2 separate regions of the Homo sapiens genome follow, and region 2 is linked to region 1. The links come from fine-mapping of genetic effects on gene expression. A gene starts in region 1. The other region holds a variant in brackets. All regions are shown on one strand. Distances are between the middles of the regions.

The links.
Region 2: its variant is fine-mapped to the expression of COPS8 in whole blood (TOPMed, PIP above 0.99).

What each region holds. Positions count from the first base shown.
Region 1 is chr2:237,076,808-237,093,330 of GRCh38, reverse strand. COPS8 (COP9 signalosome subunit 8) reads right to left here and starts at 7,442. Exons shown (of 8, transcript NM_006710.5): 1 at 7,289-7,442; 2 at 6,134-6,204; 3 at 4,678-4,726; 4 at 3,337-3,469. The coding sequence starts at 7,366. COPS8-DT (COPS8 divergent transcript) reads left to right here and starts at 7,510. Exons shown (of 3, transcript NR_187934.1): 1 at 7,510-9,175. RefSeq lists enhancers at 6,607-7,501, 7,312-7,861, 7,502-8,396.
Region 2 is chr2:237,121,076-237,137,598 of GRCh38, reverse strand. It overlaps LOC124906127 (a long non-coding RNA gene), which reads left to right. Exons shown (of 2, transcript XR_007088143.1): 2 at 1-3,791. Among named protein-coding and RNA genes, the nearest start is that of COPS8, 43 kb to the right of the region's middle. RefSeq lists enhancers at 8,938-9,497, 10,475-10,989, 10,990-11,505. The variant CTTAT/T (reference allele first, on the strand shown) is at 7,745.

The DNA.
Region 1 (16,523 bases):
TTCCATATTTAATAGGCCAGTGTACATATGTAAAACAAACACCCTAACATATTTAAAATCTTCTCTCCATTCCTGGGACATTGTCAAACTACACCAATTCCCCCAGATACCCTTTGTGCCAAACGAGTCCACTGGCTCTCAGACAAGTCTTACACCTTCTCCCCCTGGGGCTTTTGGTTTATGCTATCCCGTGGCCTGAAATGCCCTCCTGTCTGCTCTCTACCATTCCTAAGTCTGTTTATAATTCATTACGATCTCTGCCCTTCTCTAAACTCAGCAGTATTGTTTACACTTCTACTTTAACAAGCAACTTTCCACTACGGCAGACACTGTTCCACCTATCCCCTTCTTTTCAATTATATTCCAAACTTCTCGACAGGAAGGGGTATCTCTTATCCTCAAAGTCCCCCAAACACCTAGCATCTCCAGTGAAATATATGCCAAATACATGCTTGTTGATGGCATCACGAGGACCAAAATGGGGCACGACTCCAACACTTAGGCTTTGTTTTCTCAGATTCCTTAAAAACTGCCGACACTCCCATCCCTTCCCCTCATCTGAGCCCGACATCCTCTCCAGCTTTCACTCAGCCACTGTCTGCTCTTCCTTCTGTGGCTTTACACTTATTATTGTAGGTTCCTTCCTTCCTTCAACCAGCCTGTAACCTAACAGACTTTGCAATACCAAGAAACGTTTTCTATTAAGGCTGCATACATTCAATGGAAAAGAACTGAGCCAACAATGGAAAAGAGCCAACAATGGAAAGTATACTTTTTTTTTTTAGAGAAGTAAAAGTATACACCATAAAACTATATTCATTTGGTAAGTCAACTGTATTTCAAAAACATTTACTTCAGTTCAAATATTCTGGCCATATTTTCAGAGTGGGGAATAAAACAGGAATACAGTAAGAATGGAGGAGATAAAAGGGAGAGAAAAGTAAAAAGATATCACTGGAAAAGGAAAGAAAAACATGTGATGGGAGAAGTGAGTTGACAAAGCAAAAATAAAGGCTAAGTGTTCTCTGTCTCAGAAGCTGCAATATCCACTTGGCACGAATCACATCTACATTCCGACTAGTCACTCTGTGATCCTCAAGTTGTGAAATCTGTAACCTCAGGCCCTAGAATGACACGCTGGAAGGTGGAATAAATTGAGCCAGCACCTAATATCTGTGGCAGTAGTTGATGGAACACATTTTTGGTGAAAACAAATGCTAACAGAATGCAAACTCAGTTGTTCAACAAATACTCAAGTGCTGCTCATCCATCACTGCCAGTGCTGGAGACAGAAGGGAAGATGAACTAGTCACTCCCATCCTTTCGAATCCTCTTCTGTCTTTCCCAGCCATGCTGTGTGCCAGGGAGGTTGGCCGCCAATGCCTGTTGCACCTGAGCTCTCTTGCTTTGGCGAATTGGGGCTCTATCAGGTCAGAGGCTGGGAAGGAAGGTCAGGGAATTCACTTCCTATGCCCTTTCCCTGCCTTGCTCCAGCTGACCTTCTGTATCCATCCTGTGGGGCAGCCCCAGTAACACTGGCCCCTCGCCTTGCCCTTTCAAGCCTCAGATGAGAATGGCTACTGTCTACCTAGTTTCTAAGTACTTCCTCAGCCCTTGTTTCCTGCAAAAATAGTTTTCACTAGCTTCTCTTAAGTCATTTTCAGTTTTCTAATAGGACTGTGCCTAATTTAGAAGAGAATGGAAAGAGATCTAAGAAAGTGATTGTTCTCAACTAGAAAATAAGTTTCTAATAAGTTAAGAAGCAAAATGTTAAATTCATCAGTAAGACCAATCTGTTAAGAGACTATCCTGACCTGGCTGCATTTTACAAAGGAAACCACAGTACCATTCATGAATCTGGAGATTTGTAAAAGTCTCAGGATATGTTCAGGAATACTGTAGTGCTTTAGAATAAGGTACATGTTTATATATTAACTCATTTACAACCTGAAAAAGTACTATTTCTAATCACATTTCACAAATGAGGAAAATAAGACACTGAGGAGTCACCCTAGTAAGTGACAGAATCAGAATTTGAACTCCGGAAGCAAGGACCCAGAGCTTAAACTCCCGCATGGTACGCTATATAGCCTTTCCTGGGTCTACTGAACTGCTTGCCAGGAATTCTCAATCTCATGGAATTCAGTGAGAGGCGGCTCCGGGAAGGAATAAAACTACGGACCCGACGGTGCACAAGAGAATGCTTGCTGAACGAGTAAGGAGTTCCCAAGCCCAGTCCTGCCAATCAACCCGCTGTAAAACACTGGGAAAAGGCACATGGCCTGTGACCGCCCCACCACAATCACAAGGCTGAATCACGAGGATACTATGGAAGTCCACTATAACGCTAATTCCTCAGGGCTTATATGAAGAGGTTTCTGGTGCTACTTTCTGAAACTGCCCCTGCTGTACCTGTGCAATCTTCTTCCACACTCCTCCCTTCCCATCTATCTGCCTGCCTTAGGACTCTGCTCATTTCATTCACATTTAAAGTAGCTGCCTCCTGTTCTGTCACTTACATTGTTATGTTTTATGCTGCTAAGAATTTTACCATTCCAAGGGAATTATGTGCATTTCAGAAACAATCTCTGCTGTCTGCTGCCCTGTAAAGCTGATATCCCTTAGCAGAGTGATGAACAGTTATTAAAAAAATTCCTGCTCACTGACTTCCTCCACAGCAGGAAGGCATACAGTGAAGGTGGATATTAACTATGGAAGTAAGGGTAACAATAAGAAATAACAGTACATGACAACATAAAACAAGATTATATAATTTTATAAAGAGTGAACCAGGAGGACTGGAAGCAAATGCTAGGGGTGAGAGACTGTAGAGAGGCAGGGAATGAGATTTTATTGTGGGATCAGTGCTCTGTCACACCAGGCTTGTAATCTTTCAAAGCAATTAAAAACACATTTGAGCATCTATGTATTAAACTGATAAATTATAAAATCCAGAAGCTTAAGACAACACCTATCAAAGGCTGAGGCTGACAAAATTCAAAGAGCAGTCTCTATTTTCACATCTCTACAAACCCATACCTTAAACTTATTAGAATATTACAAGATCTCGTTTTAATAGCAAAAAAAACTCTTAAAACTGACGAGCAATTTCTGTCTAGAATTAAGAAACAACAAAAGCACAGCAGCCAATGTAATCTCAAGCAACAAAAAATGAAGAAGCATGATTAGGGCAAATCTAAAAAATTCTGAAAACTGCTCTTTTCACCTATCAAAAATATCTACTTAAACACACACCACTGATTTATTACTTCAACACTGCAGCACTTAGGGACTAAGTCTCATCTAATTTCATTTTTAACCACAAAGAAACACTACCTCTAAGTGCTTCCATAATTGGCTGGACCGTCTCAGACCACTGGTGAGCGTTGATGGTTGTATAGATCCCAGGGAAATCTCTCTGCCAGATTCTTTGTCCTACTGACCAAATTCCCCCAAGTTCAGAATTTGCCTGCAATAAATATTATTGCCTTAGAGGGTATTCACTCTGTAAATGCACCAATGATTGTATCTTAAAACAAAATACCAGAAATGATATAAAAACTTGTTAGCTACATCATTAAAACCTAATTCAACATTTATTTTAAAAGATGCAATTACTTTTTCAGCCCAATCACTATCAAAAGGTTTTTAAACACTATGAGCAGTAAGGTAAAATTTATCTGTAGGGCTGATATAAATTTATTACAATAGCAAATTAAGGCATGAGAAAGTAGTCAAAAAACATTTCAGAATTAAGCCTGGGGACTAATTAGCTTAAGGATTGTTTTTAAAGATGTTGTATTTGTATTTCATAGATATATTATGAATATATATTTAGGTCAAAAGTAATAGCAAAATGGTTAACAATAGAGACTCTCAATCTAAGATGTCATACATTGTAGCCTCTCTAAGGATTGAGTTTCCACTAACGCCATTGAAACTTATGTGCATGATTTATAGTACTTCTTTATTTAGCCAAAGAAGCTGAGGAATATTCCAATCTTACTTAACAGAACAGAATGTATGAGGGAAAAAAAAAGAGTAAAAATACTAATCCGATCTCTTGATGAATATCAATAAACAAAAGTTTAGATGAATTCTTGGTAATATCCCGAGAATGTTAAAAATTTCACTTGACACTCATGTTAGACACATGGAATCATTTGACATTAAAATTTTACTTCATTCCACTTTGGAAGAACCTTTTCACAGGCTATTTCTTCTAATCTCCCAACCAAAATAAGAAATTTAAAATCCTAATTAACAAAAATAATCTTATTGCTGTCAATCATTCTTAGAGTATTCTTGTAAACGATGGCAGTTTCAAAATAAGTACCATTATAGGAAGCAACATAAACCAGCTGAAAATCACCTCAGCTGCCTCCGCCACCTCCAGGAGCTTCCTTCATCTAAACTGGCTCAGCTGTTTAACTAGGGAAGCTGCACATAAAAGCGTCTCAAGAAATCTAATCAGTAGGAACTGAGCAGAAATTCTACACCATCCCAGCAAAATTCAAATTTCTGATTAGAGGACTCTGAAGATTTATTTCGAATCCTTAATACCAATCTGATGACTATTACTAGGACGTCAGATAGAAAACATAAGCTTATAAAAGGTTGCCATTTAAGGGAATGTCATTACATTAAAGCAGTAAAATAGGTTTAAAGGATACTTACAGATTTTATAGCAGGTGGTATTCTTTTCCAAAGATATCTTGCATTATTCCTAATTTACGCCACCACAAAGAAGAATAATCAATTAAAAACATAATCATCTCAGGAAATGTTAAAAACTACCAGGTCCCAAGCCAAACATACAGAAGTATACTTCACATAACACAAAGTAAAATTTAGTTTTATATGAATTTGTTTTGGGGAAACAATAGTGGTTTTCCAGATAAAAAGGACATGAAATATTTTTACCAAAGTAATATTTTGCCATTTCTAGTGAATTTTTTAAAAATAATAATCCATATCCTAAATTTAGGCAACAGCACACTAAAAACACGAGGATTTATAGACGGCCCAAATTATTTATTAGGATATAAAAGTAAACAAATTTATGTACTATCAAGGCTGTAGCATTCCCTGACAATAAGCCTGGTACACAACACTTCTCTCCCGATTACAGCCCCTCCTACCAGTGGGACACAGCTTCTGAGGCAGGAGTTTTTATGGGTTTGGAGGCTTGAACTACAACAAACATATAATGACAGTTTTACAAAACAAAAACAAAAACCTTACATATGTGTAATAAAAATTTCAATTTAGTTTTTAAAAAGATATAAAAGAAAGGTTTTGGAAGAGTTTAAAATAAAATGTTATCAGGAATCATCAGTGAGTCACAGAACTATAGGAGACTTTTTTTTTTTTTTTTTGCAGTTATGCTTTCCTTTTGAGACAGGGTCTCACTTTGGTTGCTCAGGCTAGAGTGCAGTCGCGCAATCTTAGCTCACTGCAGCCTTGACTTTCTGGGCTCAGGTGATTCTCCCCACCTCAGCCTCCCAGGTAGCTGGGATTAGAGGCACACGCAACCATGCCCAGCTAATTTTTTGTATTTTTAGGACAGACGGGGTTTCACTATATTCCCCAGGCTGGTATCAAAACTCCTGGACTCAAGCCATCCACTTGCCTTGGCCTCCCAGAGTGCTGGGATTACAGGCGTGTGCCACGGCGCCCGGCCTAGAGTAGTTATGCTTTCTGACTTTTCCATGTGAACGTGAAATAGGAATAATTAAAAACAAAAAAAACTTAAAAAATCTCATACATGTTTGTAACGAATTCCTCTTGGCTGCAATCTTCTCTTTTCACTTCTTTTGTTTTATTGATTATATATGAAGTTAAGTAAATAGAGGTCATAAAAGTTTCTTAAAAAGACAAAAAGGTTAAATGAATTTACTGACGTAATTTGTCATAATAAATTGAAATGTTTTCTAGAAAGTATATGTAAGACAATGACGACCTAATCATAATTCATTAACCTATGATTCAATAGGAAATAGACGTTAACAATTACTGTAATAAAAAAGGTAGCTCGTTGTGCCTATGTTTAGTGGTGCTACTTCAGTGCAGAAATATTTCCATATAACTTTGAGAAACCTGTTGCTCTTAGCTTTAGGTTAAACATACTTACATGTCATTATGGAGCAAATATAAAGCTAGAAGCTGACCATACACTGGGGGTGTAGCAATTCCTCCAGGGGCCTAGAAGGCCAAAAATGAAAACAAAACAAAACAACACAAAATTTTAAAAACCTCATTTACCCTTTAACTTTCATTTTTAAAATAATATTTTATAAATGCTAATTTTAAAAGTAAGCCTTTTTAGTCTAAGACTATAAGTAATCTTATAGTCCTATTATAGATTTAGAAACAGCTTAGAGAAGTATCAAACACGAAAATTCTGAGTATTAAGTTTATATTCGTCATCAGCTTTGATTTATCTCCCTTTGGGCTTCAGTTTCTTTATACATTCAAGAATATGTAAGTGGATCCCCTTCCCCAGTTCTCAAATTCCCATTTAAATGATCTTACTATTATAAGAAACAAATTCGACAGATTCCTGAAGCATTCTGATTCTGCCCATTACATCAAGCGTCCTGAATAAGAGACAGAAAATCACCACAGCTGCGTTGCAAAGACAATTCTTTCCATTTTAACTCAACTGGAAAGTATCTATTATCTATTAGTGAGCTGCTGCTTCTGGATGTTGTCTCCTTTATTTAATTTTAAAACTAATGATATAAACCCTTTTTAAGTGTCTAAGAAAAACATTAACTTTAACAGCTGCATAACTTTCATCTGTCTTACTGAAGACAAAATGGCAAGCTAACTTGACAACATTACGAGAAAGGCTTTGTGAGTTAAAAAAAGGTTACAATGGTCACATTTTTCTTGGTGTGCGTGTGAGTTGCGGTGTGTGTGTTAGTGTGTGTGTGTATACCAAGATCTTTAATAAAACCCACTTTACTACCCTCTCCCAACCCGATACTGGGAAGGAAAGATGCCTAATTAATATGAGCTCATCGGTAGGTGCTGGAGCAAAGACGCACAGGGTTTTCGGGCTCACAAGCTGAAGACACATAACAAAAAGGTCCCGGCGAGTTCGGGGAGACCGGGCCCGGTCGGAGCAGGTTGCGGCGGTCAGGGATCCACACGTCCACCTCCCACGCCCGCCCCGTGAGCTCCCAAAGCCCGCTAGCCTCAGACCCCGTTACCCTGGAAACTGGTGCCGCCCCAGGGCCTAAGACTACTCCGCAGTTTCTCCCAGCGCGACGCAAAGGGTTACCTCGAGCTCCTGGTTCTCGCACTGATCCAGCAACTTTTTGAAACTAAAGGCGCTTTCCGCCATCACCGCCACTGGCATCTTCGCGGCCGGCCTCGCCGCTGCACCGTCCGGACAGCCAAACCCCAGACTGTCCCTCAGGCGTCGCGCCCGCGATGACGTTTAAAGCCGCCGTTGCCGCCGAGCGCCCCTGCGTACCAGACCGTCAGTTCCGGGGCGCCGTCAGACATCGCTGCGGCCGGGATAGGGCGCCGCCGTTCTGGCCGGCTTTCTCGGTGCCCTGGAGGACCTGGCCGGCTCCGCGGGAAGCTGTACTCAGAGCGCGCGGCCGCCCTCTGGCAGGGAGGAGTTCGTTGCACTTTTGAGGGTTCTTCACGAAGACATCCAATACATAGAAAACAAGTAACAGCAACAGTAACGAATTTTTAAATATTAAAATTGCTGGGGAACACGACGGATCCTGCAGCTGCTCGGCTGTCCCGGTCGTCAGTGACGCTAGGGCTCCGCACCGTACCCTGCATACCGTAGGTGCTCACGAAACGTTCGTGAGTTCCCTGCTCTGAGGAAACAAGCTTAAAAACTCAGAATCTAAGGTGTGAGTCTCCGCAAACCTGCTTGTTGGGCAGCGTCCCCCGCCCGGGCTAGCCCTGCACGCCCCACCCCGGAGCCACGCTTCTCCAGCCGGGACCCCTGCCTCCTTCCAGGCTATTCTCGGAACCGCAGCCAGAGGGAATTTTTTTTTCCTTTCCTGAAACGTAGAGCAGATCTGGTTACTCTTCTGCACAACGCCCTAAAATCTAGGGCCCTTCCCATCCCTCAGAATTTACATCTAATTCTCAGCTCCCCTCCGGCTTGCTGTAGCCATCCTGGCTTTTGTTTAGCACAGCACTTACTGTTAGTGACATTATATTGTATATTATTAACATATTTGTGTTTTACATCCCTCACTAGACCCCCAGGAAAGAGGCTTTGATGTGTTGCCTGCTGCAAGGCTGGCTGCATAATTTGTGGAGCTCAGAGAAAAGTGCGGAGCTTCCTTGTTCAAAAAACAGAAAGAAAGTGCCTCTGAGGTCATAAAATATAAAACTTTCTCTTTCCTCTCAGTTTCTCTCTTTTCATAGTGTTTTTATGTGTTATTTAATATCATTCCAAGAAAAATTTAGATTTAAATTGTTAGCATGAAGTTCACCATCCATCTTTACGTTGTGCAATGCCAGTTTTAAATACTAATATAAGTGCACTGATCTCATATGTGGAATCACAGAAATTATGCAATTTGTACTTCATAGCTTATACATGCATATAGATTTTGTTTTTACCAGAACCACGCTGGTAAAAACAGATGCTGCACAAAGTGAACTTGCCCGTTTTCATCGCACTTTACGTGCACGAATTCTACCTCTACTCTCGACCTGGGACTCACCGATGCGTAAGGAAGGACTGAAAAGCAAAAGAACTATGGACTGGCCTTTTGGCATGATCAGGTGTCTAATATAAAGAAGTGCATGAATAAGAAAATATATGATATGAGTGATGGTTAATACTGACTGTCAACTTGATTGGATTGAAGGATGCAAAGTATTGATCCTGGGTGTGTCTGTGAGGGTGTTGCCAAAGGAGATTAACATTTGAGTCAGTGGGCTGGGAAAGTTCGACCCACTGTTAATCTAGATGGACACCATCTAATCAGATGCCAGTGCAGCTAGAAATGTAAAGCAGACAGAAAAATGCGAAAAGAGAGACTGGCCTAGCCTGCCAGCCTACATCTTTCTCCCACGCTGGATGCTTCCTGCCCTCGAACATCAGACTCCAAGTTCTTCAGTTTGGGACTTGGACTGGCTCTCCTTGTTCCTCAGCTTGAAGACTGCCCATTGTGGGACTTGTGATCATGTGAGTTAATACTTAATAAACTCCTCTCTCTCTCTCTATATATATATATATAAATATATATATCCTATTAGTTCTGTCCCTCTAGAGAACCATGACTCATACAATATGGTTTCTTCATGCTTCTTAAGACACCATTGCCTTCTTTCTGCCTTCGAAACAAGTTTACTCTCTTAAGGGGAAAAGTGCGGCCTTTTGGGGTGTCAGCACCCAGCTCCCTCAGTTGTAGATACAGCACGAGTACCTTGTGCTCACTTTGAGTCTTGCTGGCCTCGCAACATCAGGGGTCCACAGGGAATTCAGTGTGCATGGTGCATTATGAATGCTGTATGGAACATCAGTGGCCACACGTAGAGGCCCGTTTCCCTGGCTCATGCTCCATTGTCTTAATGGACCTCACTTACAAACCACAAGTTTACAGATAAAATTATTAAGCATTTCAAGACAGAGACAGCCATCCTTGATTTTTTTTTTTTTTTTGGCGTAATCCACAACATCTCTGTGTGGAAATGATTGTTTAGTAATTCCCTGAATGAAATGTAAAGAAAAAAAAAAACACTTGTGTGTTCCTCAAGGAACTGCCAACATTAAATAGAAGGGCACATAAGTAGTTAGCAGAACTAGAGAGATCTTGGAGTAATAAAGCAACAGAGTTTCATCCACGGCTGCAAGGAAGAGAAGGACTGAGGGCAGTATGATTCTAAGATCACTTGACAGAACTATGAGGAGCAGGATTTTGAAGCTTGTAATAATGGTCTCTAACCCTTTTCGGGCAAAGAAATATTCAATAGAAGCCCTGCTTGGCTATTTGATCATTTAAAGGGAAAACTATAATGTGAACGCTTTGGCAGGTGCTTTGGGCCTCTAAGAGGTGGAAACCTACAAAGGTGGCTGTTTGCTGAATAGGAAATCCCGGTGAGGCTTTTGATACATATCACAGGTTAGAGGTGGAGATGGGGTGTCACTTAAAGGACTAAGCTGTTCTTTGGAAGGCCAGTACAGGAATTTGGGAGTTGGAGCCTGGATGCCAGAGAGGGTAGGAGGAGAGTCCTTGGGGGGCAGAGAGGAGTCTCTGGGAGCAGTTGGGGTCTAAGGTGAGACCCTGGCCTGGACACTGGGAACTCCAAGTGGCAGTGAAGCACTGAAGCGTCTTCAGGGCTGTGATGGTTGACATTCAGTTTTAAGTTGTCACTGTACTGTGCTGGAGCCACCTTTCCCCCCAGACTTTTGATAGTAAATGAGAGAAGTGAAGGGGGACAGGAAAGAGCAGTGTGGTGTAAAAGGCTGTCATCTCCGGAGGTGCGACTCAGAAGAGGGATCGAGACTGGGAAGAAGCAAGAAAGTCAATGAGAGGCACCCACAAGGACCCTCTGTTCCTGGAGATGCTGGCTTTGGAGTGGGAAGGACTGCGTTTCTCTCTGCTCTTGCAACGAGGGATGGGGTCAGCGTGCTGAAGGGAATCATGCACTCCGGAGGCTATAGGATGGGGGTCTCAGACCCATTACCACACCTGGTCTTCTCCTTGTGCAAACTGGCCCTTGTCCCATAACTCTTCTCTGGGAGAAGCACAGTGATTGAGGAGGTTGGAAATTGTACTAGGATGGCTGATGCAGTTTGGATGTTTGTCCCCTCCAAATCTCGTGTTGAAATGTGATCCCCAGTGTTGGAGGAGGACCTCATGGGAGGTGATTGGATCATGGAGATGGATCTTTCACGAATGGCTTAATGCCATCCACTTGGTGATGAGTGAGTTTTCACTCTAGCAGTTCACGTGATATCTGGTTGTTTAAAAGAGCACGATATCTCCTCCCTCTGTCTTGTTCCCTGTCTTGCCATGTGGCATGCCTGCTCCCCCTTCACCTTCTACCATAATTGGAAATTTACTGAGGTTTCCCAGAAGCAGAAGCCGGCACTATGCCTCCTGTACAGCCAACAGAATCATGAGCCAAAATAGACCTGTTTTCTCCATAAATTACCCAGTCTCAAGTATTTCTTTATAGTAACGCAAAAATGGACTAGCACAATGGCTAATTCAAAACTCTGAAATTTGACGTTTTTTGGTCCTATTTTCTGCCCTTTCAAAGTCTTCTTCTCCATTTGCTCCTGGGAACTATAGAGTCATTTATTATGAATAAGGTCCCTGAAGAAGTGATGTCACAAGGGCCTCAGGTGTGCTCCCGCCAGTTTCACACTGGTTGCCCATTTGCTTCGGGATCACAGTTTCCATGGCTGGGTCTAGGACCACATGATCTGTCTGATTCATGTCGTGAAGAAACCACAGCAAGCATTCATCAAGTGGCCCATCTCCCTTCCTGGGGCTCTTTGGCCCATGAACCTGCTCTTGAAGCTCTGGGATGTGGATGAGTCGGCCAGTGTGGGAGAAAGAGTGGGAGAGGAGAACGGATGATGAGCCCGGGTCACCTCTGTGCCCACAACACTCCCATTGTGTCGGTCTGGATTGTAGCAGGAAACATATGGAATACTCAGTGTATTCATCTGTTTTCACACTGCTGTAAAGAAATACCCAAGACTGGGTAATTTATAAAGGAAAGACGTTTGATTGACTCACAGTTCAACATGGCTGAGGAGGCCTCAGGAAACTTACAATCATGGCAGAAGGGGAATCAGGTACATCTTACATGGAGGCAGGTGAGAGAAGAGCAAAGGAGGAATTCTCAAACACTTATAAAACCGTCAGATCTCGGCCGGGCGCGGTGGCTCACGCCTGTAATCCCAGCACTTTGGGAGGCCAAGGTGGGCGGATCATGAGGTCAGGAGATCGAGACCATCCTGGCTAACATGATGAAATCCAAAAAAATACAAAATTGGCTGGGTGTGGTGGCACACACCTGTAGTCCCAGCTACTCAGGAGGCTGAGGCAGGAGAATCCCTGGAACCTGGGAGGTGGAGGTTGCAGTGAGCCAAGATCGCACCACTGCACTCCAGCCTGGGCAACAGAGTGAGACTCCATCTCAAAAACAAACACACACACACACAGAAAAACCCCGAAACCGTCAGATCTCATAAGAACTCACTATCATGAGAACAGCATGGGAGGAACTGCCCCCGTGATCCAATCACCTCCCTCCCTTGACACATGGGGATTACAATTCGAGATGAGATTTGGGTGGGGACACAGAGCCAAACCATATCTCAGATTGGGCAATTTGAGGAAAATTTAATAAAATGGCTATTTACAAAGGTATTGGCAAGATACTGGAAAACTACAAAGGATAGTACCCCAGGGCTCACAATAGTTGACATCATTACCACCCCTAGAGTTTAAAAAGTGCACGAAGGGGAGTTCCACTTCTGTGGAGACACTTCCCACTGAAACAACCATAGCTGGAGAAAATTTCTAAGAAAACTTAAAAGTTTCTGGAAATTATCTTAAAGGTATATAAAAAATGAAAAAAAAATTTATTCAATAAAATCTATCACAACTTGGTAAGAACAGAGAGAGTGTGTGGCATTTGAGCCATAATCTGCTCTTTCCAGCCCCGCACCTAGCTCAGCTTCATAGAAGCTCCACTGTGGGTGGATGTGGTCAAGAAGATGGGGCTCACTCTCCCTTCCTCTATCAAACAAGGGATAAGGTGTCTCACAAGAAGGCGAAGGTTGCAAGCATTTCTCATCCACTCCAACTCCAAGTTTAACGCTAAATTCTAGCTAACTGTGGCCAAGAGGCAGGAGGCTCCCTTCCTCCACCAAGCTCCCACTCATGGATGGAGACTATACACTAGGCATAACAGGTCTGGAATACAGGGGTCCTAATTGCCCTCACTCCAGCTTGCTTTCTGGGGTAAACATATATTCTGTGTCCAGTAGAAAAGCTGAGAAGATCAGAGGCTACCATTCCTGCCATGTGCCAGAGTAATGGCTCTGGCATCCAAAAACCAATCAGTGTAATAAGCCATATCAACAGAATAATGGATCAAAACACACGTTCATCTCAATAGATGCAGAATACATATATAAAACAAAATCCAACCTCCTTTTATAATAAAAACACTTACTGAACTAGGGAGAGAAGGGAACGTCTTCAAACTGACAAAAGACACCTATATAAAACCTGCAGTTAACATTACATTTAATGGTCAATGACTGATGGCTTTTCTCTATGATCAGGAGGAAGACAAGAATGTCAGCTTTTGCCATTTTTATTTAACAGTGTACTACAGGTTCTATCCAGTGCAATTAGGGAAGAAAAATAAATGGAAAGCATCCAAATTGGAAAGGAAGTAGTAAAGCTATATCTATTAAAGATGACATGATCTTGTATATAAGAAATTCATCAAAAAAGAAAAAAAAACAGGTAGAACTAATTGTGAAAGGAAAATAAATCTTGGTATCCTAAACTTACTAAGCCAAAGGGAAAAGTCAGGCTGGGAAGTGGGTCATGCAAGCCTGCCTCCCATTTTGGTTCCTAAATAAGATGGCTACACACGTGAAAAGCTACACACCTCCCCTGTGGGCCCCAAGATCTTTACCCTAAAGCATTTATGTTAAAGTTCACCATGGCAATGTAAATTAATAGCTTATCTTCACAGGTGCGGGGACATAGGGCATAACTCAAAGCGATCCCTCTGCCCACCTGAAACAAATGCATATCTGATTTTTTCCTCTCCCCTATCCTCTGTGTTATCTTAAGTAAAAATGCATATTCACAGAGCCAAAGACACGAATGACTCTTTTCCTCCCCCGCAACATGAAAATTGTGCATTTCTCAATATCCCACACTTTCCCCTTTAAACATTGAAGCTCTCAAAATCATCTCTCGAAAAAGGCATAGACATGTCTCCCAGGCACACCCTTAACTTTGGCAAATACACCTCCTTAAAATGATTGAGACTTGCTTTGGTCATTTTCCTTGATTGACATAGTATTGGGTCCAGCGAGGTTGCAGGATACAAAATCAACATGCAAATATCAATTTTATTTCTGTATATTAGCAATGAATAAGCCAAATATGAAATTAAGAAAACAATTTCACCTGTTATATTAGTCCATTCTCACACTACTATTAATATAAAGAACTACCCAAAACTGGGTAATTTATAAAGAGGTTTAAATGACTTAGTTCTGCACACCTGGGAGACCTCAGGAAACTTACAATCATGGTGGAAGGTGAAAAGGAAGCGCAGACCTTCACACGGCAGCGGGAAAGAGACAGCAAGAGCAAGAGCAGGGAAAACTGCCTCTAAAACCATCAGATGGCTGGGCACAGTGGCTCACACCTGTAATCCCAGCACTTTGGGAGGCTGAGGCCGGCAGATCACCTGAGGTCAGGAGTTCGAGAAAATCCTGGCCAACATGGCGAAACCCCTGTCTCTACTAAAAATACAAAAAAAATTAGCTGGGCGTGGTGGCACACGCCCGTATTCCCAGCTACTCGGGAGGCTGAGGCACCAGAATCACTTGAACCCGCGAGGCAGAGGTTGCAGTGCACTCCAGCCTGGGCAACAGAGTGAGACTCCTCAAAAAACAAACAAATAAAACAACAGCAAAAGAAAAACCATCAGATACCTTGAGAACTCACTCACTATCACAAGAACAGCATGGAGGTAACTGCCCCCATGATTCAGTTACCTCCCCCCAGGTCCCTCCCATGACACATGGGGATAATGGGAACTACAACTGAAGATGAGATTTGGGTGGGGAACACAGCCAAACCATATCACCTGTAATAGTATGAAAAAGAATAAAATACTTAGAAATAAATATAATAAAAGAAGTGTAAAACTTAAACTCTGAAAACTACTCAACAATGTTGAAGAAAATTAAAGACCTAGGTAAATGGAAGACATCCCTTGTTCATGGATTGGGAGACTTTATATTATGATTGCAATACTAAAATTCACAAGCTGATCCTAAAATTCATATACAAACTTAAGGAATGCAGAATACCCCAAAACAGTCTTGAAAACAAAGAACTATGAGGATTCATACTTTCTGATATCAAAACCTACTGTTAAGCTACAATAATAAACATTAGATAGACATTTCGGTAAATGGATAATAAGAGTAGACATAAAGATCAATTAAATAGAATTGAGGATGCAGAAATGAGCCCTTGCATTGATAGTCAATTGATTTTCAACCAGGGTATCAAGACCATTCAGTGGGGGAAAGAACAGTCTTCTCAACAAATGATGGTTGAACAACTGTATAGCTACATGCAGAAAAATGAAGTTGGACCTCTATCTCAGACCACCTACAAAAATTAACTCAAAATAGATCTAAGACGTAAGTGTGAGAGCTAAAACTATAGAAAAAAATAGGATAAATCTTTATGTCCAGGCATTGGGCACTGATTTCTTAGATATGACACCAAAAGCACAAGGAACAAAAGAAAAAAATCGATAAATTGGACATTATCATAATTAAACTTTTGTTCTTCGAAAGACACCATCAAAAAGTGAAAAGAACCAAGAATTGAAGAATATTTTTACAAGTCACATGCCAGATAAAAGACTTGAATTTAAAATATATTGATAATTCTTAAAACTCAAAAATAAAAAGGCAAATAACCTGATGTTAAGATGGAGTAAGGATTTGCTCAGATGTCTCTCCAAAGAAGACAGATGTTCAAAACACACGTGAAAAGATGTTCTACGTCATTAGTCATCAGGCAAATGCAAATCAAAATCACAGTGTGATAGCACTTCACACCTACTTGGGTGGTTATAATAAAAAGGCAGCAGCAAGTGTTGGTGAGGATTTGGAGAAACTAGAGCCCTTATGCCCTGCTGAAGGACTATACCATGGTGCTGCTTTGGAAAACAGTCTGGTAACTCCTCAGAAGTTTTCATAGAGTTGCCATATGTCCACTCGTAGGTGTATTCTGTAGGTATATTCCACTTTCATTCCAAGAGAAAGGAAAACGTATATCCCCACAAATGCTTGTAAGTGAATGTTCATAGCAAGCTTAATTCATAATAGCCAACAAGAAGAAAAAAACCAAATGTTCATCAACTGGCGATTGAATAAATAAAATGTGGTATATCGATGCAACAAAATATTATTCACCCGTAATGAGTAATGCTGTGCTGATACATTCTACAATATTGTTAAATCTTGAAAACATATATTAAGTGAAAGAAGATAGATGCACAAAGCCCGTATTGTATGATTTTATTTACATGAAGTGTCCAGGATAGCAAGTCCATAGAGAGAAGCAGATTGGTGGTTGCCATGGGCTGGGATGTTTGGGGGAAATAGGAAATTACTGCTAATGGATCTGGGGTTTCTTTTTGGGGTGATGAAAATATTATTATTGTTTTACAGTCTCACTCTGTTGCCCAGGCTGGAGTGCAGTGGCACTATCTCAGCTCACTGCAACCTCCACCTC
Region 2 (16,523 bases), 44 kb before region 1:
AACAGGGGCCAACCGGAAGGCTCCCCCAGTGACTGAGCCTGGGATACGCAGAGCAACAAAATGTATAATGATGGCAACACATGACAGTTCCTAGAATCTAGAAAACACCCCTGAGTCCACATGGATACGAAGAATAACTGAATAAATAAACAGGAGGGGAAGTTCAGCTCTAACTTCCAGTAGAATTCCAGTAGAAAGAATGATGGAAATAGAAAAATCATTACTCGGCAAACACCGTAGTACTCATTATTGCAGGCAAAGGTCGTTTGATGGATGCTAAAATTAGTGAGTGAAAGATTGATGAAGAACAGAGTATTTATACAGCCTCTAAGTATCCCCCAACCAGATACTTACTGATTACAAAGGGAAGAACAGAAACTTTACAGTGGAGAAACCTAGCGGACACCACTTGAACCAAATCGAGTTACCATTACTGGTAATAAGACATATTGACCTCACGTACCCACCAAGCACAATGCACTGAGAAGGGCACAGCGTTGCTCCTGGGGTACCCTTGGCAAAAATGCATAATTTCAGCGTCACAAAGAAAATATCCGCAAAATAACAGATGGGCTTTCATCATTGGTGTGAAGATTATAAAAGGCAAAGACTGAGAACTGTCCCAGATTAGAGGACCAGGGAGATCTGACAACTAAACGTGGGCTTCTGGATTGGATCTGGGACCAGCAAAAGGCCACAGGAAGGACACTGATGAAATCGGAATGAGGCCTACAGATTAGTTAACAGTGTTTTATCAGCGTTAATCTCATGTTAATAATTGAACTATTGGTTATCTTGGTATTAACATTTGGGGAAGCTGGCAGAAGAGTATAATACAATTTTTGAACTATTTTTGTAATTGTAAGTCTAAAATTATTTCAAAATAAAAAGCCAAAAAAGAAAACAAAAAGTGATAGAAGCAATTAATTGCTGCCACAACCAAATACTGTGTTTAGCTTTACTTCTTCCCCTCCCTTTTACAAGATACTATTTTTTTCAATAAATTATGTATTAAAGACATTTTAACATCGAAAACCATCAAAGACATCACTCCTCACAAGGCTATGGTCTACAGTAATTGGCTGTTTTCCTTTCTCTCCATGTCTATCTTGAAGAGGCGACAGGTTTTTAAGGCATATTTTGGACGGGCATTTAAGGAAGTCCTGTGCCCTCCCAGGGCCCCGGTGGGCAGCACTATAGTGGTCAGTCGGTTTTTCTGACTGCCAAGATCTTTTACCTGCTTAACGAATAATGTGCTTATTTGTTCCTTCGTTTTTAACTTTGTATAAAAATCACAAATTCCAAATTATCTCCACCTGTAAAAAGAATTAACTATCTCCTTTTTTTTTCAGAACTTTCTTCACTTGTTTTGTTTTGCATCAATCAATTAACGTTCTATCTGTCTATACACATGGTTCTTTTTCTTCCTCAAAAATGTCATTGGAACAAACAATATTGACTGCATAATGGTTCAAAAACACAGAAAAGCACAAAGAAGAAAATTAAAATCCCCTGTACTGTTTCCCCTGGAGACATCCATAGCAATACTTTATTGAAAACGTATTCCCACGTCATTAATCTAAAACGTGACTTTAATGGCTGCATATTGTTCCATTTTACGGATTGACGACTTACTCAAACTTCTATTGCTGAACATTTAAATTGTTAGAAATCTTTTCCTACTACAGATAACATTCTAAAATGACTGTTTCTGGTTTGTAGATATTTTCACATCTCTATTTAGATGGAGTCTTATAGTTGTAATTATAGTATTAATAAATATTTACTTGTTTAGGATATCAACACCCTTCAGAAAGATGGTCTTTTTTGAGTCTTCATTCTTGGTACCTTCACCAAATTAATTACTATTTTAAATCCTTGTCAAATTTATTTGCTATGGCTATGTTATTTAACAATTTACCAAGCACCCTTTATTGAATAGTATTTCTTTTCTCCACTAATTTAAACTATTATTTCTGTCTTGTCCTAAATACATATGTGTACTTGATTTTAGATTTTTCTCTTCATTTTCTCTTGTTTTTTTTTGCATCAGTATCACTATATTTTAATCAGTATACCTTTGATATATTTAGTTCAGTATTTGACAATGCCAATATCCCCTCATTATAATTTGATAAAATATCACTTTCTTGACTATTTTTATCTTTTCTTTCCTAAAGATAAATACTGACATGATTTTGTAGTTTCAATTTTTTTTCACTGGGAATCTGCTTTTGTTAATCACTTTGAGAAAATTGATATGTTAACAATACTTTGTCCTTCCTCAGGTCATGTGGGTTGGTCCCTTCCTTAAAAACTAACAAAATGGAGTTTATTTTAAAATCTCGGGAGTAAACTTAGCTTGAAGAGACTACATTTTTCTCGGGGTAAACTTAGCTTGGAGGGACTACATTTTTCTCGGGGTAAACTTAGCTTGGAGGGACTACATTTTAGTGGTGAGCCTTAGAACTAAAAGTCATCTAAAGTCAACAGGATTAACTAGAGAAAGGTCAAACTGAGCTAATTATATAAATCTTTGACATGCTGTCTTGATTAAAAAAGAACTTAAGCTAGCATTTATAGGCACACTTAGGAAAGTTAGTCTAGAATCTCACAAGAGTGTGCAATCAAGACATTTTCAGAGATTTGTCTGTGAGTTCCTACAGCTGAATTAGGAGCTGGTCAATTAGTTCTCCCAGCTGAAGGTCAGCTTCAGTGTCATGAACAATTAAGCCAGGGCTGTTGGATCACTTGAGTAAAATATGAAGTACAGACAATTTGAGAATGAGCTAATAAGGGAGAAGCTCCAACTGGCTATGGGTTTTATCATAAGATGAAGCAATGAGCAAAAGTCTAGATGTCAAGTTGGATTTTAATTGCATTTAGTCCCTAATCTCTGAATTTACTGTTTGGCATATACTTAAAACTACAGATGATTTCTATCACTGAGTTTCCACTTAATTTTCTTGCTCATTTACACTCTCTAGGGGTGCTGCAGATTACTGTGGTTCAGTTAATGGGGACAAATTTCTGTTCAACTGCAGCCCCAGGCCTGAGGCAACCTCAGGCTACAATAACCACCTGTAGAGAAAGGTGGGGAGGGTGCCTCAAGTGGAGCACAGCAAATCTGTTGTGTCAGCTGCGGCTGAAGTCGGCCCCAACCAGGTCAGCTGGCAATGGGAGATAAAGGCTCATCACCCTAGCTGGCTACAGAAGTCCAGGGCCAATGGCAACCAGAGAGGAAACTGCTCTGGCACAAGACTTCCAAGTCCTTGCTCCTGCTGACTAATTGCAGTTCCCACCTTGCACATCAAATTGCATTAAATATACCAAAAAGAGAGGTCAAGAATTTTTGAAGCTGCTTATTCTTTTACCTGAGATGAATTTCCCTTTGTAAGGCTAAAAGAAGCATTGAAAACTCATCAGTTTTGGCAAATGGAACGATGGCAAACAACCCATTCGGGAAATTTGAACCTGTGTGAAACAGAGCTCTTTCAAGAAACAAAAGAAAACTTACAGAAAAGAAATCAAGGTTAAGAAATTTGAACTGTATATTCTAAAAGAGATTTGAGGAGATAATATTCTTTCTTCATGACTGTTGCACTGATGCAATCTGAAAAAAAAAGAGAATTCTTAAAGTATTACATACCCAACTAAACTACCAATAAAGGAGGAAGGCAAAATAAAGACCTGTTAACAGTCAAAAAATCAGAATATTGTCTTCTATATGTAAATCATGAGGAGAGGAAAATGTGATTAGCAAAAATTCCTGCAAAAAAAAAAAAAAAAGAGGAAGCTAGGGAAAAGGAAGATATCAAATTCAAGAATCAATGGAGATAAATCAAAAATGCAATGAAAAGAAACTCCAGCATATAAGCATTAAGATGAACGACATATGAAGAGTAAAAAAACAACCCACAGGATGGGAAAGGATATTTGCATTCCATATATCTGACAAAAAAAATGATCAAGAACTTATGTAGAGCTCTGAAGAATCAATAATAATAAAATGCTAGAAACCAATCCAAAGGTAAAATGGGCAAGAGATTTTACAAAAGAGAGTGTCCAATGGCAATAAACATTTGAAAAGATGCTCCAATTTATTAGCTGTTAGAGTGGTGCGAATGAAAATCATTGTGATGTTACACTGTACATCCCTCAGAATGAATAAAATTTAAAAAACAAAATAGACAATACTAAATGTTGACAAGGATGTAGACCAAGTGTAACTTTCATCCACTGCTCATGAGAATGTAGATTGGTAAACCCACTTTGGAAAACTTCCATAGTGGGATGGCAACCCTTAGATCAAGGATTTGGAATCCCAGATCTGGCCTCTTCCTGCTGTTTAACAGAAATGTATTCTGGTGCTCTGTGCCTTGGGAACAGCTCTGTGAGAAGTTTGGCTTAGTGTCAGTCGGGTTCTTGGGAGGAAAAAGATGGCACACACAGGCTCTGCCTCCCTGGCAGCCCCATATGGGCCAAGCCTACAGCTGAAATCCCATTCCATGTCCTTGGCCTTTGTCCTTCTCGCCACCACTCAGGGAATTTGCGTTTCCTGTAGAGTTGCAACGTCACTCTCTACTGGACTGGAGGTTCTGCTTCCACTAGAGGGCAGTGTAAGAGTTCCACCCAAGTTGAGACTCCCGTCATTTTGGGTTCCTCATGCCAGCCAACCAACAGACAAAGAAAGGAACTGCCCTAGTGATATTTTGAGCCAGATAATTCTTTGTGGCAGGGTCTGTCCTGCACACTCAGCAGCATCCCTGGCCTCTACCCTCTAGATACCAGTAGCACCCTCCACCTCCAACTGGGACAACCTAAAATGTCTCCAAAAATTGCTAAATGTCCCTTGGAGGACAAAATTGCTTCTAGTTGAGAACCACTGATTTAAAGACATTGTCCCCAATGGTGGACAGATCACAAGGCTTTGGACAAATAAACTCTAGTTATGATATTGCAGAGTTTCGTTGGATCTGTTCTATAATAAGGGGCTGAGCAACAGTGAGGGCAGGCAAAATGAGGATTTCAGATCGACCTTCCCATAACTGCTTCCATAGCCCAAGGCTATTTCACCAGATAAGCTTTGGGTCATGCTTTAGTGCTAAAGGTAGTTTTTCCTGTAAAATTTATGAAAAAGATAAAGCTATATATTTTCTTAATACTTTAAATATATTTGAAACCACTTGGTATTAGGGAAAGAGAATGTACTAGAATCTGACAGGGGGAGTTTAGAATCCTGGCTGCACTGTTCCCCAGCTGTGTGAGGTCGAGTTCCTGACTTCTAGGGGTGGGGACAGGGGTGGAGGCAGCTTCCTCCGCCTGTAAAAGAATACCTAAGCAGTGGGCTTCTTGGAGGACTCAATGACAGAACACTTGGAAGCATTCAGTAATGCCTTCACTAAACACCTTTTCCTAGTTTAGGGTGTAGGGTTTCTTCTTGCCCTCTGTTCTTCATTTTGTGTGTCCATCTCTCTGCCTTACCATGGTAGATGAGACACATAACCTCCCAGGCAATGAAATCATTAGTCCTCCTGACCAAGGCAGAAATGACAGCTTCACCCAACTGGAAAATAGAACTTGAGACTTTTATAAACATCTCCGGAATTAACAAGGAATAACCCCTGACAAACAAGTAGGTGTGGTCCCCTGAAAAAAAAGACGGTTTTGTGGAGTCTCACAACCCACTCGGACCAGCCTGGCAGAGGAGGCAGGGCTGAGGGTGGGGAGGGGAGCAGGGCCAAGGTGACCACTGATTCTGTAGAACTGATGGAAATTGGGAGCCGGGTGAAACAGTCTTGTTTCAAAGCCTCTCCCTGAGAAAGCAGTTTGGGAGAAGGTAGAGGAAACAGAAGGAAGCATGTGTGTGTGCATACACACATGTACACATGCACACAGACATACACACACACAGACTCTCACAAAGACACACACATGCTAACACATCTGTTCATACTCTCACACGTGCACACAGGCACCCATACTCACACTCATGTACGTAGGCTCTTACACAAAAATTCTCACTGATTTTCACGCACACTTGCTCACGCAGACCCTTTGACACCCATATACATGCATACATATCTGCACACATAAATGCACATATGCACACACACACTCATATGTACACATACACCCATCACTCTCACAAACTTTCATGCACTCATATCACACAAGCATGTTCACTCACACTCACACACATCACACACATTTGCATGCACTCACATACTTGTGCACACATCACACACAGACATGCATTCACACACATCACATGCACTCAGAATCATACACTCACAGACTCACACTCGTGCATTCGCTCACACATCACATGCACACTTAGACTCATGCACTCACACACACAAACATCACATGCACAGACTTACAAGCACACACTGACATTCGCACATCATATGCACAGACTCATGCACTCACACACTTGCATATCACATGCACATGCAAAGACTCACATTCACTCACTTGTTCACATATCACATGCACACTCAAACACACATGCACACAATTACACTCACATCATATGCACACTCAGACTCACATGCACTCACACTGGCCCACACACATCACATGCACACTCAGACTCGTGTCTTCACACACTTGCTTACACTTACAAACATCACATGCACACTCAGGAACTCACACAAACACATCACATGCACACAGACTCACATGCACTCACAAACTAGCTTACACACAAACATTGCATGCACACTCAGACTCACAGGCACTCACTGACACTTGCACATCACATGCACACTCAGACTCACATGGGCTCCCACACACTTGCACATCACAGGCACATGCAGACTCACGTGCACACACACTCATTCACACAAATCACAGGCACACACGTGCTCACACAATTACACTCACATATCACATGCACACTCACAGACTCATGCATTCACAATCACTGACACATCACATGCACATTCACTCATGCACTCATACACTTGCTTACATTCACAAACCACTCACGTTCACGAACATGCACTCAGAAACTTGCTTACACTTACAAACATCACACTCAGACTCACATGCACTCATTTAAACTCACACAACACATGCACACTCAGACGTACATGCAGTCACTTACATACACATCACATATACACGAACACTCATGCATGCACACACTTGCTCACACACACACTGAAACATTTGCTTACATCAAACACACTGAGACTCACATGCACTTGCTCACACACATCACATGCACACTGACTCATGTACTCAAACGTGCTTACACTCACATCACCTGCAGACTCGTGCACTCATGCTCACTTACACACATGCCACACACACAATTCACACTTGCTCACACATATCACATGCAGTCACAGACTCATGTGCAGTCACAGAATTACTCATGCACATTACATGCACAGACTCACATGCACTCACACACTCACTAAAACACATCACACGCAGGCATGCACTCACACACACATCACATGCACATACAGACTCATGCACTCACACACACACTGCATGCACAGACACATGCACTCACTGTCGCTTACACTCACACACCACAGACTCATGCACTCACAGACACATCACATGCACACCCACATGCACTCACACTCGCTTACATATATCACATGCACACACACACACACTCAGATGCACATGCACTCAGTTATACACACACATCACATGCACACTGACATGCACTCACCCACTCATACACATCACACACACTGACTCACATGTGCTCACAAACTTA[CTTAT/T]ACATCACACCCACACTCAGACACATGCACTCGCTAGCTCACACACATCACAGACCCACATGTACTCACACACACAGATCACATTGACAGACTCACATGCACTCACATGCTTGCTCACACATATCACATGCACACTCAGATGCACATACTCACTTGTTTACACTCACACACACCCTCAGACTCACATGCACTCACACACACATCACATGCACTCACACACATAGATTACTTGCACACTCAGAAACGCACTCAGACATCACATGCACATTCAGACATGCATGCACTCAGTCACACCCAAACACATCACACACACTCAGACTCATGCACTCACACTCGCTTACCCTCACATCACATGCACACTCAGACACATGCACTGAGAAACTTGCTTACACTCACATCACACACACTCGGACTCACATGCACTCACACTTGCACATCACATGCAGACTCATGCGCTTACACACATCACACAGACTCGCACTCACACTCGGTCACATCACACAGACACATGCACTCAAAAACTTGCTTACACACATCATATGCACACTCAGACTCGTACTCATGCTTGCTTACACGTACAAGCCACATGCATTCACACATGCTCTCGCTCACACATCACACAGACACATGCACTCACAAATTTGCTTACACTCACAAAAATCACACACACAGACTCCCATGCACTCACATGCATCACATGCACACTCAGACACATGCACTCACACACTCATCACATGCACAGACACATGCACTCATGCTCACACATCACCTGCACAGTCACATACTCATGCACTCACACACATGCATCACACACATGCATTCACAAACTTCCTCACACACCACATGCACACTCAGACTCACATGCACTCACATTCGCTTACACACAATCACACCCACTCAGATTCACATATACTCACACATTTGTTCACACATGCCATGCACACTCACATGCACTCACACTTATCACACACAGCTCACATATATTCACACTCACCTCACACGCACCCTCACGCTCACTCTCACAAATATCACACACACGCACTCACACACTTGCTCAGAGACTCACATGCACTCAAAAATTTGCTTACACTCACAAATGTCACACACTCATGCACTCACACTCATCACACACGTGCTCACAAACTTGCTTACACCCACACATACATACACTCACACATTTGTTCACACAAATCACACAGACTCATGCACTCATACTTGCTCACACACATCACACTCAGACTCACATGCACTCACACACACACATCACACGCACACTCACAGACTCACATGCACTCACTCGCTTACAGCCTCCTCAGCTTTCATCCCTGAGGACGCCACCCCTGCTGCCCTGTGACTCAGAGGCTCACAAGGAAGAGGCACCACATGACGGATCTGGCAAGGTCCCTCCCCCTCCCGCCACCCCATGCTGAATGAATCACAGCCTCCTGTTTATTTAACCACTTCAAGAAGCTGGGTTTCTTCCAGGGGCTTTCTTAGGCAGCAGGGGGCATGCAGGGGAAAGGGGTGGAAAGAAAGCAGGGCCCTCTCTACTAGTGATGTAGAGAGGGGAATGCAGGGAGGGCGTGCAAGGAGCGTCCGTGGGGAGCTGGTGTCCCCATGTTGTGCGTGGGCCTTGGGCATACAGGGCCCATGTCGCAGCCCTCAGGGTCCCGATGGGGCCTCCTACATCCAGGACTGGAGAGGGGCTGCCACTTACACAGGAGTGTGAAGCTGCACTAGACTAGGGTCCTGGCCCCAAAGAAAACAAGAAGCTGGTTCAAGCCTGGTGCCAACACAAACCCTTTATCTGCCCTAAAAGTGAAGCTGAGGCCACCAGGCTTTCAGGTGGGCTTCAGCAGCCCCCAATGCTGATTCACACCTGCACCAGGCCTGCTGAGGGGGCTGCTGTCCCAGAGAAGGTGCGGCTTCGGGTTGTGCTTTAGTGCACAGACAGCAAGGGTACAACAGGAAGAAAAGACGCTGTAGGGAGAGAAAGAAGACAGGGGAGGGAAAGAAGATTTGATCCATGATTTCTGCCATGCAGTCAGTGCTTCCATACACAGATGTGTGCACACGTATATGTACGTAGGTCTTGATTTATTTGAGTATGAGCACATTTAGAATTTGGATGACACCAGAGTGGCTCAAGGCTTGCACTCCAAACTTGAAAGAAACAAATCTTTTTCTGTGCTAGAAAAATTTAGCCAATTAAACAAAAACACCAGTTCTATCTTTTTTTCTTGTAATGCTGAAGAAATCCATTTTGAGACTTGGGCATTTTTAATTTTCAATTTTCCCAAGTGCAGCAAATTTCTTTTCAGGGATTGACATTAAGGATATGTGGAGTGTCAAAATTCACATACGCAATGGTTCTTCAATTCTATTATGAAGTTAGAAAACAGATGAAGTACTTAGTGCCCCTCCCAATATTTGTCTAGACCAAACTAGACACAAAAAATGACAACAAAATAATTCAATTAACCAATACTTTTGAACAATGGAAAAACCTTCAGTTATTTGTGTTTTTAATTACAGGATGGATTTGTAAATGCCAAAGGTTCTGAATGTATTTTGAAGTTAATTCAATGATTAGTTTCTCCAATAAAACTTTTGCTCCCCTGGCAGACAGGAGCACAAGGAGAAAGAGGACCCTCGCCTTAGGGGTGACAAATGCTGGCATCTACGCACAGCCATTTGCTCTCATTGTCCCTGAGTTCTGGTTTCTCTTACCAATGTTTGCACATCCGAGTTACAGAGAGAAAGAAAGGAAAGCGCTGTAGCAGGAGCCGGGCTGTGATTTAGGCAGATCATATTCAGGTTGGTGTTAGCCAAATTCCATAACACGCAGACCCCTGGAGATAGGAAAAGGAGCACAGATTCCCTGAACAACTGATTCAACACACCAGCTCTGTTTGTAAAGCATTTCTATGCCCATAAACAGACCTGTGGATCTAGCATCCCAGCACTTTTACTTAGATGGAAAAAGTCTATGCTCTCATTCCAAGCAGGCACCTCCCTTCTTTCCTGTCCTCTGAGAAGACACACAGACAAGGGTGCTGGGGTTACAGCACAGGAGAGGTCGGAGGGTGCGTGGCTGGCACGTAACCGTCAGTGACTCTGAAAGGATATCTCCTGTCCGAGCCTTCAGCCTTGCCAATGTGCATGGGGCAAGCCCAGGGACTCTGCCAGCCCCTGGTGAGGGTCTGTGGAGACAGGGCCAAGAAACGGCTAGAACAGCCTCTCAGCCTGGCTGCTGAGCCTTGGTACGAGCAAATGTAAGGGGCGTGTGGCTGGTCCTGTCAGGTCAGCAGCCAGGGGACTCCAGGAGCCTTCCACAGCCAGGGCAAGCAGCTGCCCAAAGCAGAAGACACAGAACAGCCTGCAAGTCTCCTCAGCAGGCAGAAAAGTTGCTCATGGGCCTCTTAGCAAAAGAGAAGATGCTCACCAAATGTGCTGTTTTGGCTGAAGATATGAAAGCAAACCCAGTGTACCTTTGGAGGGAGAATATAGCTTCATGTAAATAGCCAGTAGCTTTCTAAATGTGCTCTCCAGAGCTCTGGGTTTCCTGAAAGTCCAGGAACGAGGCAGGAGCTTGGAGGAAATGTTCTTTGGTTTTCTATGCATGCATTGGTCTCTGAAGGGGCAGAGCAGCTCTGTGGCGCTGGACCCAAGACCTTTGGACCGTGGGTGGGGAGCGCCTGAAAAACAATAGCACGGAGCTGGGCAGAGCTCCCCTGGCCCAGCCGCTGTCTCAGGTTGAACATCTGAGACCTTGTGAAATGTTTGTAGGTAGCCAGATGGCCTTTGAAAGGATCTGGAGAAAAGGTCCCTTACATCAGTGTAAGGTAAACTCTGGGATGTATTTTTCTACCATTATCCCTGAACTCTCAACAAAATTGTATTAAAATATGTAGACTGGTTTCTGCTGTACTATGTTGGATTTGGGAAACAGGAGATGAGGTAGATCAATGTATCTGCCAAGGCCAGGGTGACGGCAGGACCAATGTCACTGAGAGAGCACAGCTTCACAGAGGAGCATGGTTTCATGTCAGGACAGCAGGGTAGCAGGTGATGCTCCAGACACCACTGGGAGACCTCTGTCAGGGGTGCTGTGCTTACAGCAGGCTGGCTTAGTTAGAGCAGTTCAAGGTAGCTCTGGCGGCAAGAGTGATCTGTTATATACAAAATGCGTAGAGATGGAAGGGCAATTAAGATTAAGATGATGACAGGCAAGACAGTTCAGATAGTGATTCTTTTGCTTTAAAGACATTGAAAACAATGGGTTTCCTTTCTAGATATCTTTCTTCCTACTCTAAGTTAAACACCAAAGAACAAATTCAACTGGAGAAGTGCGCCATCAAAGCATGCCTGTCTCTTTTCAGACGTCTGGAACTGGTTGGGGAATCAGGGCTCTGGGGGAGTATGGATGGAAAATCATGCGAGGAGTCATCGGGTGTCTGAGGCTGTTTTTCTAAAACCATAAAGACTTGGGTTCCCAAAGATGGTTTTGGAAGTTGAAGTATAAACCAGCCAAGGCTGTTAGAAGCCATGCTTCAGAGACTAGAAGACACTGTAATTTTTCTGCATCATTTTATAAACACATGCACATTGATTTTTAGGTCTGTCATACACACAGTGGGAGTCAGAGGACCTGATGTCCCCACACCAGAAAGCCAACTTTTCCCACTCTGAATGTCCCCGCATTCTCAGGAACAAACCTGCAGCAATGACCCCGAATGGTTTATCTCAGAGGTTTATTTTGGAACCTGAAGACCAGAAACTAGTTCAGTCCCTGCTCATCTTTCTCGCCCCGAAACCCTCTCCAGAGGAAGAAGAGCCCCCACTCATGTCATCCCCGCACACTGAGGGAGGCTGCGTTGGGCCCATCCCTCCAAGATCCACTCCACCCGTGTGGACTCCTCCAGGAATATTCTTCACAAGAGCAGTAGCTGCTCCTGGGAGTGCATTTTCTCTCAGATGTACCAGTGAGGGTCACCTGCATGAGTGGAAGCAAGACCATGAGATGCAGAGGAGGCAACCAAAGGGCTGCCCTTTTTCTGCACTGGCTCCCTGGGCAGCCTGTGGTGCAGCCCTGCCCTCAGCGGCAGCTCTGAGACATCGGACATTGCCTCTGTCACTTTACAGAGTACAGACTGATTATAGTTCAGGACTTCTCCCTTCTCTCCAATGCAAACAACACACAGAAAAAACGAACGGACTTGCTATTAAGTAAGAAGGAGGGGCACAGATGTAGCTCCCAGAATCAAAGAAAGGGATCTGCATGAGCTTCCAGTGCTGCTGTAACAGCTACTACAAATGCAGTAGCTTGACAATATCACATTTATTTGCTTAAAGTTCTAAAGGGCAGAATTCAAAAATGAGTCTCACTGGGCTAAAGTCAAGGTGTCAGCAGGGACATTTCCTTCTGGAGGCTTCAGCGGAGAATCAGCTTCTTTATCTAGCATGGTTTCGAGAGGATGCCTGCATTCCTTGGCCCATGGCCCCTTTTCTGTCTTCAAAGTGCATTGCTCTGACCTCTACTCCGCTCCCATCATCACGTGGCATTCTCATTTCTCTCTATCTCCTCCTGCCACCTCTCATAAAGAACTCTGTGATTATGCAGATGACCCATGTGGATAGCCCAGGGTCTTCCTTTTTTTAAGACCCTATCCTAGTCCATTTGTGCTGCTGTAACAAAATGCCACAAACTAGGTAATTTATAAATAATAGAAATGTATTTCTCACAGTTTTGAAGACTGGGAAGTCCAAGATCAAGGTGCTGGCAGATTCAGTGTCTGGTAAGAACTTCCTCTTTGCTTCTAAGATGGCATCTTGCTTCTGTATTCTCACTTGGCAGATGGTGGAAGGGAAAGAGGGACGAACACTGTGTCCTCAAGTGGCAGAAGAGATGGAAAGGCACTTTTGTAAGGGCACAGACCCATTCATGAGGGGCTCTGCTCCATGACTTAATCACCTCCTAAAGACCCCATCTGTTAATGTTGCCACATTGGTGATTAAGCTTCAACATATGACTGTTGAGGGGGCACATTCAGGCCATGGCAGATCCTTAACTTAATCACATCTGTAAAGTCTGTTTTGCCATGTAAGGTCTCATAGTTATAGGTTCCAGGATTAGGATGGGGACATCTTGGTGGGCCACTGTTCAGTTAACCATAGGTTCCAAGGTCAGAGATTTCAGGGACTGGACTCAGACACAGATCTCAGAGTCCCTGTTGGCAGGGGTCCCTCTCTTTGTCCCCAGTTTGCTGTTTCTCTGTGCGCGTTCATGATTTACACAGTTCTTGTACCCATTTCAGATTCTCCTGGTCTCATCTGTCCTTGCCGCCAAGATGGATTATCTGCAGGAACTTGGACCAACTTCACGGAACCTTCCTTATGTTCTGTTCATACTGCCCAGACCTGCCCTGGCTTCCCTGTTGCTCCTGAGGCAGAAGAGGCCTTTGGACTTACTCGGCCCCACATCTGTACAGTCCAGAGATGCTGGGGGAATTAACACCACAAAAGGTTGACTTTAGATCAATGTGAGACAAGTATTTCAACTATGATTGTGTATTTGTCAGTGCCTCTTTGTAATTCTGTGAGTTTTTTCCTTCATTTATTTGATAACATACTGTATAATAATGCACATTTTAAATTCTCATGTCTTCCTGGTTAACATTTTTATTTAGTCCTAATGTCGTGGGCTTCTTTGCTGGGGATTATGGTGTCAGCATCCTTTTAGGGATCATTTTTCTGCCTACCACAACTATGATTAACTTTTTGCCAACAATTTTGAGAATATAGGTGAAGTGTGTATTTTCTTGGGAAAAATCTGGTTGCTTATTTTAATTGGTAATACAGTAACACTTCCTTTTTGTTGATTCTTGATCTGGGATGTAAACATTTCTTCTTTCAGTGTTCAAATTTTCTTGTCATTTCATGTTATGTGTTTCTGTTGTAAAGTGTATATATATTTGAATTTTGTTTTATCATCCAATATGAGAGTCTGTTTTGTGAGTTTAGTTTCTTTATATTTATTGAGCGGCCATTAGCTTTGATTACTTGATACTTCCTTAAGTTGTGATTTCTAATGGCCATGTTTCTTTTTCCACATTTTTTGTTTCCTTCTTTTTTCCTTTTACTCCCTTAATGGTTTCAGAGTCACACACATTCTCTTGTCTACTGTATTATGTTCAGTATATTTGGCTCCTCTCTCTGCAGAGCTTCTGCTTCAGGAGGATTAGACTTACTGGCTCTATTGAGCCAGCCATAGCTGACTTTCTCTGGCTGATGAAACATATGTGAAAGTGACGGTGTCACTTCCAAAGAGAAGCAACAAGAGCCAGCACGTGGCTCCCCAGGTCTCTTCTCCCTCTGCTGAGTGGCACAGAGAGGCTGCTGGGTGGCCGGCATCCTAGAGTGATGCTGACAGAGAAGACGGCCTCTGCTGACCCCCAGTGGACAGGCAGCAGAAGCGTAAAAGAAACATTTGCTAGTAGTGTAAAGCACCAAGATCTGCAGGCCATTTGTTAGCGCAGCGTGGCTTAGCTTATCCTGACTGGTATGGTAGTTCCGATAAGCAAGTAGGAGGATTTTAAATGCCTTTATTTCACAATCATCTTAGATTGCTAGTTTAGACCGCTAAACTTTTAAATATAATTCAAGTGCTCTACAATGACTTTTCTGCTTCTAATAAATGTTTGACTATATTAAAATTGTTTATCAAAAATAAATTTGAAACTGTTCAATAAAAAGAGATTGATAGTTTAGATAAGGGTAGGGTTCTAGATTTACAGTGATTTTCATTCATCCCTGAATCTCAAATACCTTTCCAATAGCTACCACTAATATTAACTGTTATGATTACTTATTGGCTGCTTCCTAAGAACCCATCACTTTGCTAAGAGCTCCACATTGTTTTCTCATTTAATCCTCACAACAACCCAATTTAGCAATTGAGGAAACTATGACTTAGTGGCAGTTAAGGAACATATATATGAGCACAGCTAGTCAATATTAATAGCAGAGCAAGAACTCAAAGTCAGGGCTGCCTGATTTCAAAATTGTGTGCCATGCTGTTGTACCAATAAGCCCCTTCCATGGTACTCCACTGAAGAACAATGTGTGCCAATGCAAAGCAAATCTAGATCACAGTTGTTATTTCTATGATCACTCATCAAATATATACTTGCCCCTGTCTCCCATTATGAGTGGAGTCTACTTCCCTGCCCTGTGGGTTTTTCCCTTGTTCCTGTGCTTACACAGAGCATGGGATGTCAGCAGTCTTGTGAGGGGAGGATTGGCACAGGGCTGTGAGGTTTAGCTTGCCCTCCAGTGCATGGCTGATCCACTGGGAGAAGAATGTGGCCAGACAGCTGTGGAGCAAAACTGAACCCAGAATAGAGCTCAGAGTCAAGTCCCCCTGAAGGTTAGGCTGAAGTTGAGCCATCCATATCCTGCCCCATCAGCCAAGCCGTGGCTCTTGTGCTCACCCATGAGCATGAGAATACAGCTTTTTGTTGTAAGCCATTGAGTTTTGCCTCCTTTACAAATGTTATTTTAATTTTTTAAGTAGCACAGTAATGATTATTCCTGTTCCCAAAATGTTTTGTCACATCCTAGATTACTTCTTTAGAAAGATGACTAAGAGAAAAATTACTGGGCCCAGTGAATGGGATTCTTGAGGCATTTAATATGCTCCTTTCATCTGAACGTTTGACACTAAGGATTTCAAGATGTCTCTGTTTTCTTTCTGAAACTTCATGTCTAAGTGAT